Linked DNA regions of Homo sapiens: region 1 is linked to region 2. Evidence: fine-mapped QTL for protein levels in blood plasma. A gene starts in region 2. The other region holds a variant in brackets. All regions are shown on one strand. Distances are from middle to middle.

Region 1 (8,323 bases), 57 kb after region 2:
TTCTGTAGAGAAAGAGTCTCACTATGTTGCCTAGGCTGATCTCAAACTCCTGGGCTCAAACGATGCTCCTGTCTCAGCCTCCCAAAGTGCTGGGATTACAAGCAAGAGTCACTGTACCCGGCCAACATGGATGAACTTTGAAAGTGCTATGCTAAGGCTAGGCGAAAGAAGTCAGTCACAAGAGACCACATATTTGTTGCATGATTTCATTTATATGAAATATGCAGAATACGCAAATCTATAAAGACAGAAAATAGATCATATTACTTAGGGCTGGGGTGATTAGCAAATTGGAGGGTGGTGGCTAAAGGTTTCTTCTTGGAGTGATGAAAGGTTTTAAAACTGACTATGGTGCTGTTTGCACAACTCTCTGACTATACTACATATCATTTAATTGTACACTTTAAATGGGAGAAATGCATGGTATGTGAATTATATTTCAATAAAGATCTTACCAAAAAATAGTAAGCTGATTGTGTTAACATAGTTTTATGAAAAAGTACAATATTTTCCCAAAGAAATTTAGTGAGACGAGTGACATAGTTATACATTTTTGCAAATATCTTTGTTGCGGGCTTAAAAGAAGACTACTGGCTCTCATACCTGCTTCTACATTCAATGTGTTACATCACACGTCATGCAGACTTTGTAATACTATGTAATATTTCTGCTTTTTTTTTTTTAGACACAGTCTCACTCTGTCGCCCAGGCTGGAGTGCAGTGGCGCCGTCTCGGCTCACTGCAACCTCCGCCTCCCGGGTTCAAGTTATTCTCCTGCCTCAGCCTCCCGAGTAGCTGGGATTACAGGCGCCCAGTACCACGCCCGACTAATGTTCGTATTTTTAGTAGAAACGGGGTTTCACCATGTTGGCCACGCTGTTCTCGAACTCCTGACCTCAGGTGATCCACCCGCCTCGGCCTCCCAAAGTGCTGGGATTACAGGCGTGAGCCACCGCGCCCGGCCCAGGTATTTTTTTGTCGTTGTTGGCTTTCTGATGTAAGAAACAACTGTCCCTTCTCCCCCGTTGACTTATTTCCTTCAGTTTGGACTCATATCGTAGTCAAGGTTATAATCCGTTGCTATCGCTGTTTATTTGAATCTCACACTGGTTCCGCTCTGGGGTAGGGTCACTGGGGGCGTCAATGAGATGCATGAGAATCGCCTTCCCACGGGGTCAGGAAACTGACAGGCCCAAGAGTGCATCTCAGCAAACGCTCCGTTTCCTGCGGGCAGCCTCAGATACTGGGGACCGTCCTGGGGTCTCAATTAAGCGCCCCCTACCCCAGCCCCTTTACGCCAAGAGCGTCCTGTTCAGCTCCCCCATCCTAGCTCCGCCCCTGGACGCCGCCGTCCAATCTCGGGATGGCCCCGCCTTTTCCGTGAGTTACGTCCCCGCCCCCATGCGCTGACAGGCCAGGCCTGCGGCTCGGCGCCGCGCAGGGAAGACCCGGAGCAGCGGTTTACCTAAGGAACGGGCCGCGCGGTCTTGCTGCGCATGCTCTGAAGTAGCGCGCCTGAGCGTTCCGCAAGGCCGGCTCCCCGGCGGGGTCGCGCGCGCGGTCACGGGGCTCGCTCCCGAGGGGCAGGTCGGGGCTGGGAGCTGGTGCCCGGGTCGGGGTGGCGGCGGCGGCCTGGGTCGCGGGGTCGACGCTCGCTGCTGCAGCGGCAGAGGCTGAAGGATCCGCCGCGGCGCTGTCGCGGGAGAGGGAGGGCCCCGCTGCCGTCGGTGAGGACAGGCCCCTGCGGGCGGGGAATGTCCCGCGTCCCCGGCGTGGACGCGCCCGCAGCCCGGCTCTCCCGGGGGTCCCGAGGGTTGCGGGTGCTGGGGAGGGGTCTGCGTCCCGGCGCTCAGGCCGCCTCCTGTGGGGTCTCCCGCGATTCCCTCCTTGCTCCTCGCCCCTCCATCCCCACCCCCCCGTCCCCTGGCCTAAGCCCGACACCCCCACATCAAGGATCCCCGCACTCGTCCGCCGTTTCCTGGCGGTGTCTGCCCCGCCCAGCGCTGCCTTCCTGGACCCGCAGCATCAGCCCCGTCCCACGGTTGCAGCTCGGGCGGTCCCAGTGACCTTGCACTTTTGCGGGTCGGGACGCACCCCGCTCCCGCTTCTGACCCTATAGATCTCCGGTGACGGCTTTCGAACTTTGTTGACCCACAGCCGACACTGAGAAATGCCTTTTACGCGTGTACTCTGTGCCTGTGGGTCTGGATGACTGAAGCACAAGTTTAAAGGGAGACGCTTGTTTAAGCTCACATGACGCAGCTGGATCTGTTCGGATTAAATTCCGTTCCATTCTCTTCCACCCCGTTCCAAAAGGCTGCTGCTAACCCATGGAGCCTGCACATAACGGGTCTGACGTAGTTGAAACCCTCGCTCTAAACCCTGCCTGTTGTTCCTTTATTCCTTGTACTGGAAGCTGAACTCCCATAGTCAGATAATCATGTGCAAACTCCAATTCCAACGAAATGGCTTATTTTTATTTGCATATTTCTGCTTTCCAAGGGCCAATATGATTTCCAGGGCTTGATCTAGATTTTCTCGTGTGATTATATCATGTTTCTCTTGTTCCTTTCCCAAGTGCTACTGGCGGGACGTGTGGAAGGAACAAGGCTGAGGTTGGGGCTAGATTGCGGAGTGTTTATGACGCCCAGCTGATGATGCACTAAGGCTGGAGATGGAGATGATTTAATTGGGGAGAGACATGCTGAAAGTTAAGCTTTAGGAAGAGTGACCTGTCAGCACCCTATGTGGAGAATTGGAGTGGCTGCTTGCCAAAGCTGGCAAGATCGTTCAGAGGCTTTGGCTTGGGCTAAAGAGGTCGTGGTAAGGGATCATGTCCTGAGTTGGTGGGAGTGGGAAGGAGAGGGAAGATGGGTATATCAGGCATAGAGGGAGAGAGATTTGAGGATGCATTAGGCTGTGGGAAGGAGTAAATAAACTTATATTATGATGGAGGGTGACTGGGGAATACCGGGCTGGGGGGGTCTCATTGGCCAAGCTCTCCCTTTCTGTGCGCTCTAATTTCTAAGTTGCTTTGGAGCTGTGGCTCTTGGGCAATTCTGCACCCCAGGGAACGTTCTGCAGTGTTGGTGGTCACAACGTGTGGTAGGGCATGACAGTGGGATCTGGCAGGTAGAGACCGGGGTTGCTGCTGAACACCCCACGCTGAACAGGACAGCCTCCCACAGCAGAATCATCCGGCCCAAAATGCCAACGGTGCTGAGATTGTGAAGTTCATTTTTAGAGTAAATTTTAATTATCTGGGCATCTCTGCCACCTTCAACCTCTTCAGGAGGAATGTCTGTGTGCACCCACTGAGCCTGTGATGTCACCATAGTGGTTCATGTCTGAGGCAAGTGCACCTCCAACGCTCATGGTTCAGTTGCGGGTAGGTGGGAGGTGGGTAGACACTGGAGTCATCCAGGAGCTTTAAAAAAAAATTTTTTTAGTAGAAATGGTGGGGGCGAGGGGCAGGTCTCACTATGTTGCCTAGGCTGGTCTCGAACTCCTGGGCTCAAACAATTCTCTCACCTGAGCCTCCCAAACTGCTGAGATGACAGGTGTGAGCCACCGTGCCACCGGCCCATTCAGAAGCTTTTTAAACAGAGGGCCTTCCCTCCTCCCGCTCCTATCACTCAGGACCCCTACTGCACCTGGATGCTGAACACCTTGTTCTTGTCTAATGGTCGACAGTTCATGGAATAATTTCACCTGCAGTATTTCATTTGCCACTTTACTTTCTTCACAGGTGAAACCAGCCCAGAGAAGTTACGGGATTTGCCCCCGGGGCTCCTGCCCAGCAAGCCAGCGCCGTGACCCAGGTGTGGGGGATGATGGTGACGCTTCTCACTCACGTGTGAAGGTAATTCTGTGGCTCCATCAGCTGCCGACAGAGCCGCCTGGTTTTCGAGCCTTACTGATTAGAGTTTGGACCCCTTGGTGTCTGAGAGACACCTGACAGTTGCTAACATGTGACCCTTAGGTCTACGCTGAGCCCTTGTGGTCACCAGCAGGACCGCAGCGTCCCAGTAGGCCATCTGGCATTGCACTCAAATTGCTCCGCACCCTCAATTCTGGGAGAAGGGGAGAGAGGACAGGAGAGTGATGCACCATGAACTGAGACTTTGGAGCTTTCCATGCAAATCTGCCGGCCTGTGCTCCATTCACTTAAGAAATCTGTACTGAGTGCAGCCAGGCATGGTGGTTCACGTCTGTAATCCCAGCACTTTGGGAGGCTGAGGTGGGCAGATCACCAGAGGTCAGGAGTTTGAGACCAGCCTGGCTAACATGGTGAAACCCTGTCTATACTAAAAATACAAAAAATTTAGCTGGGCGTGGTGGCGCACACCTGTAATCCCAGCTACTCAGGAGCCTGAGGAGCAGAATCGCTTGAACCTGGTTCAAGGATTCAGCGGAGGTTGCAGTGAGACAGGATCGAGCCACTGCACTCCAGCCTGGGCGACAGAGTGAGACTCTGTCTCAAAAAAAAAAAAAAAAAAAGAAATTTGTACTGAATGAAGATTGAACATTACAAAAGAAACACATTAGGGCCCCTGTATCTACTGTAAAACAATGGGTATCTACTGTAAAAAAAAAAAGCACTTAAACTAGAGTAACAAAAGTTTCTAATTTTTATTAAATGAGATATTTATTGAATTTATTAAATAATATAAATGTATTAAAATATACTCATTTTTATTACATGCACTGAAATTTTTTTTTTTTTTCCTGAGACAGTCTCATTTTGTTGCCTAGGCTGGAGTGCATTGGTGTGATCTTGGCTCACTGCAACCTCCATCTCCCCGGTAGGTTCAGTGAGTTCTGCCTCAGCCTCCTGAGCAGCTGGGATTACAGGCATGCACCACG[A/C]CCGACTAATTTTTTTGTATTTTTAGTAGAGACAGGGTTTTACCGTGTTGGCCAGGCGGCAAACTGGGATTACAGGCCTGTGCTACCAAGCCCAGCTAATTGTTGTATTTTTAGTAGAGACAGGGTTTCACCATGTTGGCCAGGCCGGTCTCAAACTCCTGAGCTCCACCTTACTGGCTAACGGTAAGTAAAATCTTTAACATGTGTTTGCTTTATATGAGTATAAAAGAATTGTATTTCCTTTGTTTTGGTCTAGGGCACTGTTTTTGAAACTGCTTAGTCATTGGTCCTAAAATCATTAGGTTCCAGTCAGCAATTTTTAAAATTACATGGGCTGGTCGCAGTGGTTCACGCCTGTAATCCCAGCACTTTGAGAGGCCAAGGTGGGCGGATCACGGGAGGCAGAGGCACCAGAATGGCTTGAGCCTGGGAATCGGAGGTTGCAGTTAGCTGAGATCTAGCCACTGCTCCCCAGCCTGGGAGACAGAGCAAGACTCTGTGTCGAGAGAAAAAAAAAAAAAAGAGAGAATCCAAAGAAGAATCTACAAGATTCTAGATCAGGAATATTGAAATGAATGTGCAAATGGAGGCAAAACTGGCCTCTTCTACAGTGGCCAAGGAAACATATTTTTGATTATAAGGCTGATTTCATCATATTTGGCCTGATTATGTAGTGCAGCAATAGTACTGATTCACCAGATAAGCCTACCTGAGTTTGCCTGCCTGGAAGTCTCCATAAGGAAACTTAGACTTTTTAAAGTCTGTTGTTTTGGCCAGGTGCCGTGGCTCACACCTGTAATCCCAGCATTTTGGGAGGCAAAGACGGGCTGATCACTTGAGGTCAGAAGTTCGAGACCAGCCTGGCCAACATGATGAAACCTCATCTCTACTAAAAACAAAAGTTAGCTGGGCGTGTTGGTGCGTGCCTGTAATCCTAGCTACTCAGGAAGCTGAGTCAGGATAATTAACCTAGGAGGCAGAAGTTGCAGTGAGCTGAGATCATGCCACTGTACTCCAGCCTGGGCAACAGAGTGGGACTCCATCTCAAAACAAAAATACAGGCCGGGTGTGGTGGCTCACGCCTGTAATCCCAGCACTTTGGGAAGCTGAGGCAGGCGGATCACGAAGTCAGGAGATAGAGACCATCCTGGCTAACATGGTGAAACCCCGTCTCTACTAACAAAATACAAAAAATTATCCAGGCCTGGTGGCAGGTGCCTGTAGTCTCAGCTACTCTGGAGGCTGAGGCCGGAGAATGGCGTGAACCCAGGAGACAGAGCTTGCAGAGAGCCGAGATCGCACCACTGCACTCCAGCCTGGGTGACAGAGCGAGACTCCATCTCAAAAAAACAAAACAAAACAAAAAATAAAAAAAAGAAAAAAGAAATTTAAAAATTCGTTGTTTGATATCCTGAGACACAGAAGGCAAGTCCAGGATGCTTTCTCCATCAGATTTTACCTGTAGTACTTAAAATTTGGGCAAATTCCTCTCTTCTTGAGGTTCCCCAAAATACCCCTAAGGTTCCTGAAACTTGTTAAATTGCTAATACTTTCAAAAACGAGGAAATCGGCCAGGCATGGTGGCTCACTCCTGTAATCCCAGCTCTTTGGGAGGCCGAGGGGGGTGGATCATGAGGTCAGGAGTTCGAGATTAGCCTGGACAACATGGTGAAACCCCATCTCTAGTAAAAAAAAAAAAAAAAATAACAAAAATTAGCCAGGCGTGGTAGCGCGCACCTGTAATCCCAGCTACTTGGGAGGCTGAGGCAGGAGAATCGCTTGAAACCAGAAGGCAGAAGTTGCAGTGAGCCGAGATCATGCCACTGCACTCCAGCCCAGGTGAAAGAGCGAAACTCTGTCTCAAAAATAAAAAAAAGTAAAAAAAATTTTTAAAAAGCCATGACTTTCCCAATAATACAAAGTAAGCTTGTTAATAATTTTTTTTTTTTTTTTGAGATGGAGTTTTGCTCTTGTCACCCAGGCTGGAGTGCAATGGTGGGATCTCTGCTCACTGCAACTTCCACCTCCCGGGTACAAGCGATTCTCCTGCCTCAGCCTCCCGAGTAGCTGGGATTACAGGCGCCCACCACGACGCCCAGCTAATTTTGTATTTTTAGTAGAGACGGGGTTTTGCCATGTTGGTCAGGCTGGTTTCGAACTCCTGACCTCAGGTGATCCGCCCATCTCAGCCTCCCAAAGTGCTGGGATTACAGGTGTGAGCCACCATGCCCGGCCGTTAATGATTTTCTGTGACATTAATGAGGAAACCTGTATGACATTAAAGAGTAAATGAGATGATGTAGATAAAATACTTCAGGTATTTTAGTGCCCAGCACAAAGCAAACCTCAGGTGTTGCTTAGGTTCGTCGCTTAGCTGCAGTCTTCTGTTTCCCAAGGTCATCTATTCTAGTGTTTGTCAAAGTCTAGTTCACAGTCTATCAGTATCAGGAGGATTTGTGAAAAATCTAGATTCTTGTTCCTCCCTCTTCCTTTGGCCTCCCTCTTCCCCTCCCCCGATCCTCTCCCCACCCCCCAAAATCTGGAGTCTTTTCTTCCCCCTCGAGATGGAGTCTCACTGTTGCCCAGGCTGGAGTACAGTGGCACGATCTTGGCTCACTGTGCAACCTCCACTTCCTGGGTTCAAGCAATTCTCCCTGCCTCAGCCTCCTGAGTAGCTGGGATTACAGGCGCCCGCCACCATGCCCAGGTAATTTTTGTATTTTTTGGAAGAGATGGGGTTTTGCCATGTTGGCCGGGCTTGTCTTGAACTCCTGACCTCAAGTGATCCACCCACCTCGGCCTCCCAAAGTGCTGGAATTAGAGGTATGTGCCACTGTGCCTGGCCTTGGATTCCTTTTTTTTTTTTTTTTTTTTGAGACAGTGTCGCTCTGTCGCCCAGGCTGGAGTGCAGTGGGGCAATCTCGGCTCACTGCAAGCTCCGCCTCCCAGGCTCACACCATTCTCCTGCCTCAGCCTCCCGAGTAGCTGGGACTACAGGCGGCCGCCACCGCGCCCAGCTAATTTTTTGTATTTTTAGTAGAGACGGGGTTTCACCGTGTTAGCCAGGATGGTCTCGATCTCCTGACCTCGTGATCCGCCTGCCTTGGCCTTCTAAAGTGCTGGGATTACAGGCGTGAGCCACCGCGCCAGGCTTTTTTTTTTTTGAGAGGGAGTTTTGCTCTTGTTGCCCAGGCTGGAGTGCAATGGCAGGATCTTGGCTCACTGCAACCTCCACCTCCCGGTTTCGAGTGACTCTTCTGCCTCAGCCTCCTGAATAGCTGGGATTACAGGCATGCACCAACATGACCATCTAATTTTTGTATTTTCAGTAGAGACGGGGTTTCTCCATTTTAGTCAGGCTGGTCTCAAACTCCCGACCTCAGGTGATCCGCCTGCCTCGGCCTCCCAAAGTGCTGGGATTAGAGGCGTGAACCACCGTGCCTGGCCTTAAATGTTT
Region 2 (8,323 bases):
GGGGCAGATGAGCCCCTTCCCGGGAGCCCGTTTCTCCTTCCTGGAGGAGACAGGACCTGAGCTCCACCCAGGTGAGAAGTCCCCGGCGGCAGAGTAGGAGCTGCAGCCAGGCCTTAAGACGTCCAGGCGCGGGTGCTGCCGCTGCACCATCTGACCGTCTTCCAGACAGCCCCTGAGCTACAGCTGGCTCTGGGCACTGAGGCGTGGGAAGCCCCCTGAAGGAAATGAAAGCTCGCGGAGGGCGAGGTGGTGCAGCTGGGATGCCCAGTTTAATGTCTGAACAAATAAGTGAGTGGCTGAGCCAGGCTGAGGCTGGTTCTATGGGGACCCGGGACTGTCAGGCACAGCCAGTTCTGGGGAGGAGGCCAGGGAGAGGTTGTGGGGCTCAGTGGGGACAGGACTGACGCTGGCTCCTTCCCGAGGCCCTCCTGGCCAGGGGTGGGGGGCTCGAGGGAGCTCACCAGACAAGCATCCCGCTCCCCCTCCAAGTAGCCGGCACACAGCATGTCCTCAGTGATGGGTCCCTGTCCTGCTCCCCGCCAGTACAGATGGCTGCAGACTTCCGAGTCGATGATAGGAACCTTCAGCTTCTGCAGGGTCTGAGGGTGGGGCAAGGGAACTGGGAGGAAAGAGGACAGAATCAGGTTTGGGGGTCTCCCCTCCTCGTTGCCTCCTCAAAGGACTATTCCCCCCCAACACCATTCCTCTCAGCAGCGGTTCTCAAAGGCTAACAGATTAGCTCTACCAGTCTCTCCCAAGATGCCTTCAGAAAATTGAAATTCCAGGTCTCCACCTCTGGCCCTGCTGAATTAGAACATGAATGTGAAACCTAAGACCCTACCTCTTTAATAAATTTTCTTATATCCACAGATGGTTAGAGCCCTTCCTGTCTCAGATACTGCATTACTTCATCCAGCACTGGGACTGCTATAGAAGAAGTGTTCAATAAATGTCCACTCGATGTTGAAAATTACCAGGACCTGAGGGATCCCCACGCCTTGCCTGGAGCTGGTCTACAGACTGTGGTCTGCAGATTGTGGACTGAAAGTCCGCGATTCTAGCTCTTGAAGAAGCCCCTACAGAGATCATGGAGAGGTTGCAACCTCAGAGTTACTGGGATCCCCACACACCTGAGCTAGTGTCATTTCTCTTAATTATTCTGGAATCTGGTTAAATTTTCATCTGTCTTACACTTTGTTATTACTTAGTCTCTAGCTCTCTCTTTCAAACTCTTTCTTCCAGGTCTTCATTGTATCCTCATTTCTGCCTGTATGTTTCTTTTCCTTGGCCCAGTCTCTATCATCCATCTGCCTGTCGATCTGTCATCTACCTTTCTCTTGCTGCTTCCCTGCTTCTTGCTTTATGTAATCTAGTTTGAGTTTTGAGATGATGTTTTCCAAACCTCCAGTGGTGGTTTGAAAATTATATTTTACAATTAAGGTGGCTGCATTTTCTCCCGAGAATTTTGCCCGCAATTGTGGCATGCTACCACCAGGGGGTGCCTGTTCCCACTCTGGAATCAGGCCTCTTTATATTCACCCTGTATTCAGCTTAGTCCCACACACACCCCCTTTCAGCCATTCCTGTATTGATGAATTGAATAGCTTCACGGGTCTGGCTGTTGCCTCAAAACATAGCCAGATACTTTTGAAGTAGAAATGAGGCCAGGCACAGTGGCTCACACCTGTAATCCCGGCACTTTGGGAGGCTGAGGCTGGTGGATTGCTTGAGCCCAACAGTTCAAGACCAGCCCAGCCAACACAGAAAAACCCTGTCTCTACAAAAAATACAAAAATTAGCCAGGTGTGGTAGCACACACCTGTAGTTCCAGCTACCTGGGAGGCTGAGGTGGGAGGATCACTTGAGCCTGGGAGGCAAAGGCTGCAGTGAGTTAGGATCACACCACTGCACTCCAGCCTGGGTGACAGAGTAACACCCTGTCTCAAAAAAAAAAAAAAAAAAAAGAAGAAGAAGAAAGAAAAGAAAAGAGAAATGGCCTGAAATTGCCCACCAAGGTTTCTTCTGGATTGCAGCCCATCTTTCCTTCCACCTCTGTCATGCTGTGCCTCTGGCCTCCACCCTTTGTTGCTCATGGTGTCTGTGTCCCTGAGTGTCTGCCATCCTCTGTCCCCATCTGCCCCCAACCACCTTGGAGAGGAAGAAGCCGCACCTCCATCTTGGATGCTCCCCCAGCCTGAGATCCAGCAGTGGGTGTTTGGAGGGAGGTGGATAGAGGCATCAGGTAGGCAGATGGGCAGGACCCGCTCTGAGAACTGTATGGAGCGCTCGAGACGCACCAGGGCAATGTCTGCACAGGCACCTTCCTTCCAGGAATACACAGGGTGGGGCTCCACCCAGGCAACACCCACCTTCTGGGACCGAGAGCCAGGGTTCCCCAGCTGCCAGGCCCCCAGCAGCACAGAGAACAGGTATGGTTTGTTCAGGTTGCTGGAAGGAAAGGGAAGGGGAGGATCAGCCAGGCCTGGTCTGGGAGGAGGTACCTGGGGGAACAGCATGGGTGTGAAGGCCCCTGAAGGCAGGAGAGGCTTCTAGGTAGAATCGAGGGGCACCAAGATTGAACAGAGGCCCGGAAGCAGAGCCTGTAAAGGGAGCCCAGGGCCTGGGGCACAAAGCCCAGGGCCTTAGAAGATCAAGTGCCCCAGGCCGGCTGTACATACTCCTTGAAACAGTGGGCAGCAGTGATCACCCAGCGGCTGGTGAGCAGAGAACCTGCGCAGTGGTGGGTCCCATTCTTCTGGATGCTCACGATCCAGGGCCACTCGCTGTCAGTGCTGTCCTCGCCGCCCACAACCCGGTTCAGCTGCTGGGGCTTCCCACAGGCTGGGGGAACTGGAGGGTACGGTCAAGTTTTGTTATCTCCAACTTCCTACAACCCACCCCCGGAATCCCAATCCCTAGGCCTGCACCCCAAGCTTTGCCCACAGCCCAAGCTCCGTTCATGTCCCCAAGCTCTACCCACATCCCAAGTTTCACTTGCACTCCAAGCTCCACCCACACCCCAAGCTCCACCCACATCCTAAGCTCCACCCATACCCCAAGCTCCGCCCACCTCCCCGTCCCATCCCTCCCTCCATCCTCACTCTCTGCTGGTCCTCACCTGGCCCTGGCCTTTCCACTCACTCCTTGTCAGCTGCACCTGGTCTCTCCCTCCCCCTCTTTCCTTACCCTGCTTTCCACTCTGTTCACCTTCCTGGCTCTCTCTCTCCTCTGGCCCTGGCATCTCTCAAGCCTTTCTCCTTGCATCCGTGTCTCCTTCCTGCCTCCCTTCCCCTCTAGCTCTTTCCCCCTCTCACCCCAGCCCCTTTCTGACCTGTGCCCAGGGGACGGACACATAGACACTGCCTGCGCGTGGGCCTCCTCCCTTCTCCCTCCCGTCAGAGCTGCCAGCTCCACTCACCAGGTATCCTGGCCGCATTGAGGATGGCTGAGGGCAAGAGAAGGAAACGGTTAGGCCGGTGAGGGGCCCCAGGACACAGTGGTGAGGGGCCCTCAACGCCCAGTGAGGAAGGCCCCCAACACCCAGTAAGAAGGGATCCCAGTGCCCAGTGAGGTGGAGGTCCCAGCACCCAGTGAGGAGGGTCCCTCAGCGCCCAGTGAGGAGGGGTCCCAGCACCCCCTGAGGAGGGTCCCTCAGCGCCCAGTGAGGAGGGGTCCCAGTACCCAGTGAGGAGGGTCCCTCAGCGCCCAGCGAGAAGCCCCCAGCACCCAGTGAGAAGGGGTCCAGTGCCCAGTGGGAAGGGGTCCCAGCACCCAGTGAGGAGGGGTCCCCAGCGCCCAGTGAGGAGGGCTCCCCAGCGCCTAGTGAGGAGGGTTCCCCAGCGCCCAGTGAGGAGGGGTCCCCAGCGCCCAGTGAGGAGGGCTCCCCAGCGCCCAGTGAGGAGGGGTCCCCAGCGCCCAGTGACGAGGGGGTCCCAGCGCTCAGTGAGGAGGGGGTCCCAGCGCCCAGTGAGGAGGGGTCCCAGCGCCCAGTGAGCAGGCGTCCCAGCGCCCAGTGAGGAGGGGGTCCCCTTGAGTACCTGGTGGTGAGGAACCTCTAGCCCTCCAGTGCCCAGGGAGACTCTCAAGTCTCTCAACCCCAGGGCCCCTACCGGCGGGGCATTTCCTGGGGCCTGGCCAGGCCCTGGCTGCACAGCTGTGACCCTGCCCTCCCGCAGCTTCCCGTCCAGCCTGCCTTCCGGGGACCAGGACCGGCTCCTCGAGGGAGGCACAGACCTGAGCCCCTCGGCTCTGGACGCTGCTGCCGCTGGTGTGCCCTCCCCTGACCTCCTGCGGCAGGAACAACACAAAACGGTGCTTCCCCAGAGGCAAGCAGCGGAGGACGAGGAGATGGGAGAACACGGAGGCGAGAGGGAGCAGGCGATGGCGACGCCGACGGTAACTGGAGACCGAGGCGCGCTGCGTACTTGCTGCGTTTTCTGTTTCATCCTCACAGCCGTAGAAGAAACCGAGGCACAGAGCAGTTAAGGAGCAAGAGATAAACAGAGCAGAAGCGGAAAGGAGATGAGAGAGGCAAGGCCAGGAGGGAGAGAGGGAGGGAGGGAAGGAGGGAAGGAGGGTGGAGGTGAGAGGGAGGAGGGAGGAGCAGCCTCCGGACGTACCTGTCGACGCCAGCAGCAGCAGGGAGGTGAAGGTGCCGAGACAGCCCCCACCCAGGGCTGGGGGCGCTCCAGAAACCACCATGGCTGGTGGGGCGGGGGAGCAGGCAGCAGGCTCGAGAGACCCAGGGCGATGCGGGTCAGGGTGTGTAGGTTCCCTGCAGGTCGCCCCAGGTTTTATCCTGGGAGGCGGAATGCCGTCAGACCAGTCCCCAGGTGGCTCCCGCGGCCACCCCGGCTGTGGGTCCTGGGCAGAGGGCGGGGCTGCGGGGAGGAAGCCAGCCGCTACAGGGCTCTGGGGGGGCTCTAGCTGAGACCCCAGGATGTGGCCTCTGGAAGGGCAGGGGAGGGGGCTTGGGCCCAGAGGTCCCTGACATTAATTGTCCAGGGGCAGAGAAAGGTGCCAGGGCACTGAAAGGAAGGGGTTCCGGGCTGGGGAGGGCCTGGGTTTGGAGAGGCTGAAGTCTGGGGTACTGGGTGTTGGGGGTGGTCCTAGGGCCTTAGGGATCAAGGGGGTGCCCAAAGCTCAGTAACGGCTCCCACCTGCAGGGCCCCAGGCCCCTGTGACTCAGCCCAGAGACCTGGCGCAACCCGGGCTTGGGAATCCCGTTAACCCACTTCCCGAAAGCTGTGAATCAGGTGAGTGGCGACCTTGGTGGCCTCCTGGTGGCCGCCCTCCTGTCGTTCCTGGAGGCGGGGCTCTGCCCTGCGGTTCAGACACCTGACAACTCACCTCACCTGGACTCCTGGGAAGGGGAGGAGCCCATGGGCACCAGGGCTCGGCCAAGCAGGGGGGTTGAGAGAAGAGGGGCCCCGGGAAGGGCTGGGACTCCCAGGATTCAAAGAGCTGCTGGGCTGGGCTGTGGGGGGCCGGGTCCTGGGCTGGGAGTGGATTCTCGGTGCTTCCCCCCAGCGGCTGCCACAGTGGCAACCCGGGGCTGAATCCTGTGAGACCTTCCCTGACTCAGTGCCCTGCAGCGCCCCACACTTGGGACACTCCCACCCAAGCAGGGCAGGCTTCCTCCTCTACAAAGAGGCAGGAGCCTGCGCCCCTTCACTCATTCGATCAACAAGCCTCCAGCAGGGCCCTTGCTACCGCCGGGGGTGAATTAAAAACAACCATAGTGTCTGGGTGGGGTGGCTTATTCCTGTAATCCCAGCACTTTGGGAGGCCAAGACGGACAGATCATGAGGTCAGGAGTTCAATACCAGTCTGGCCAACATAGTAAAACCCCGTCTCTACTAAAAATACAAAAAAAAAAAAATTAGCCAGGCATGGTGGCAGGCGCCCTTAGTCCCATCTACTTGGGAGGCTGAGGCAGGAGAATCGCTTGAACCTGGGAGGCGGAGGTTGCAGTGAGCTGAGATCACGCCACTGCACTCCAGCCTGGGCGACAGAGCGAGACTCTGTTTCAAAAAAAAAAAAAAAAAACCATAGTAGTGAATATGTATGTAATAAATATATTTATACAAATATAAATATAGTATTTATATAATAGAGCAAACATTTAGGAGTGCCATGCATTGCCTCCTAATCCTCAAATGTCTTTATTATTCCCACTCTGCAGATAAGGAAACTGAGGCAGCTTAGGGCGGTTAAGTGACTTGCCCGAGATTGCTGGGTGAGTGGTGGAGCCGGACCTGCACCCCAACACTGGGGGTGGCTGCTGGGACTGCCCTCATGGAGGCTTCGGGAGCCTGGAGGAGGTGCCTCACCCTGCCTGGGGTGAGCCCTAACTTGCTCCCTGCAGAGTCAGGGTGGCGTGGGTCAGGGGCTTAGCAGACCACCATGGCTGCTTCAGGGACTCCATGGCTCTGAGCAGGACGGGTTTTGCCCTGGGGGTGGACTCTGTGCTGCCCACCTCCTCAGTCTGTTAAGGGTTAGGGTGGCAGCAGGACGACTGGCACTTTCTCGTGGCAGAGAGGCCATGCCCTGCTCCACCGAGAGACAAGTCAAACAGCAGGGCCCTGGGGAGCCCCAGAGGATGCATTATTCTCTGTCCCAGGACTCAGAGGGGGTTTGGGGGAACTGCAGGAAAAGGCCACGCAGAGTGGCCAAGGAGGGGCAGTGTCTCTGAGCAGCAGCAGCACTGCAGCAGAAATTTCTGCTGGGCTCCCCCAACCCTACTCACTGTCCCCCGCTCAGCTCTGCACCCAGGGCGTCCAGGGCCCTCCTGCGCCCCACCCCACTGCCTTCTGGAATAAGGTGGGTGGCCTCTCCAGCTCACCCAGCAAACATATATTGAGTACCTGCTGTATGTCAGGCCCTGGTGGGCACCAGGACACATGTGATGAATAAGACGCAGGTCCTGTGCTCAGGAAGCACATGACCTCCTAGGGGTGGGAGGCAGATGACGGATGACAGGGAGGTGTCCGGGAGGTGGGCACAGAACCATGGGACCAGGCGGTGGCTTGGACCCTAGAGGGCCACTGTGAAGCTGGGTGCTGGGGAAACAGTGTGGGCAGGGGGGCTCCCTGTGGACCCCCAGGATCATATTCAGTGCCTGCTGCACCCTGGGGCTCAGCGAGTGTTTGTTGAATGTATAAATGAGTGTGGAAGAAGCAAGTCTGCAAGTGGCTGGGGACCGACCACTCCAGCCTCCCTCTCTGCCTCCCGCCCAGGTTTCCTCTCCATTCCAGCTTTTCTGCCTTTCTGAAGAGCCAGCTCACTGCCCTGGATACCCAAGGGTAGCCATGGGCCCTGCCCAAGATGCCGCTATCCCTGAGACAGGGTGGCCAGGAAGAGAGCCCCGAGGAGAAGGACCTGGTAGGAGCAGGGGGAAGCCCTGAGGAGCTGGGTGAAGATTTCCTGGCACAAGTCCTGGGGAAGGGCCCCAGACAGCAGTTCCTCAATTCCCAGGGTATAGAGGGTGGAGTCTCTGAAAGGCCACGGGGTGGAGACCCTGGCATGATTCAACATTCACTCAACAAAATATTTATTGAGCGCCTGCCAATGCTAGACCCACATGCTGGCCAGCATCCCTGCCTGTGCAAGCTCTGGATGAGCTGTGTGCCCCTGCCACCCACACCCCCACTCCCTGCCAGCCTGGCCTCAGGGCCTCTGATCCATGTGCACTGGAGTGGTGATGACTGACAGGGCCACTGGGGCATTTCCATGTTAACAGCAGCTGCCACTGGCAAAAGAAGTGACTCGCCAATGGTGGCATCTCAGATGTGGGCCCAGGAGTCTGGGGAGCTACTTTGAACAGGGCTATCCATTCATTGTCCCACCAAAGGCTATGGAGCCCACCCACCATGTGCTGGAGTAGTCAAGGGAAATAAGACACTCTCCTTGTCCTTGTTAACTCAATCAACAAGCATTTGCAGAGCACCGCCTGTATGCCGGCGCTGTCCGAAGTGCTGAAGATACAGCAATGAGCAAACCAAAAGCCATGGACATCGGATGAAACAGAGAATTGTAAACAATAAGTACATCATTTAGCTCTATGGAAAACAGGATAGAGATTTCTCAAAGAACTAAAACTAGAACTACCATTCAACCAGCAATCCCACCACTGGGCATCCACCCAAAGGAAAAGAAGTCATTTAATCAAAGAGACACCTGCACTCGTGTGTTCATCGCAGCAACACTGTTCACAACAGCAAAGCCATGAAATCAACCTAAGTGTCCATCAACAGATGATGGATAAAGAAAATGTGGTGAATATATACACAGTGGGATACTACGAAGCCATAAAAAAGAACAC

Alleles and levels. Positions count from the first base shown, and alleles are read on the strand shown. Strength reflects both the effect of a copy and how common the allele is.
For the plasma level of the protein whose gene starts at base 4,767 in region 2, allele A in region 1 goes with a lower level than allele C (moderate association).

What was found. A credible set is the group of variants that fine-mapping cannot tell apart. PIP is the chance, under the fine-mapping model, that this variant and not a neighbour inherited with it causes the effect. Protein levels are from antibody-based Olink assays in UK Biobank. Linkage for the fine-mapping came from a reference panel and not from the study's own genotypes, which makes the PIPs less certain.
Region 1: its variant is the best candidate, but not a certain one, in a credible set for the plasma level of the PRSS22 protein (UK Biobank, PIP 0.80).

Annotation. Positions count from the first base shown.
Region 1 is chr16:2,910,428-2,918,750 of GRCh38, forward strand. FLYWCH1 (FLYWCH-type zinc finger 1) reads left to right here and starts at 1,504. Exons shown (of 10, transcript NM_001308068.2): 1 at 1,504-1,727; 2 at 3,749-3,862. RefSeq lists silencers at 1,255-1,314, 1,365-1,674, 1,695-1,844, 1,875-1,974, 1,948-2,137. The variant A/C (reference allele first, on the strand shown) is at 4,867.
Region 2 is chr16:2,853,404-2,861,726 of GRCh38, forward strand. PRSS22 (serine protease 22) reads right to left here and starts at 4,767. Exons shown (of 6, transcript NM_022119.4): 1 at 4,620-4,767; 2 at 3,419-3,445; 3 at 2,679-2,850; 4 at 2,171-2,448; 5 at 462-619. The coding sequence starts at 4,701. RefSeq lists enhancers at 4,152-4,752, 4,753-5,353, 5,354-5,953.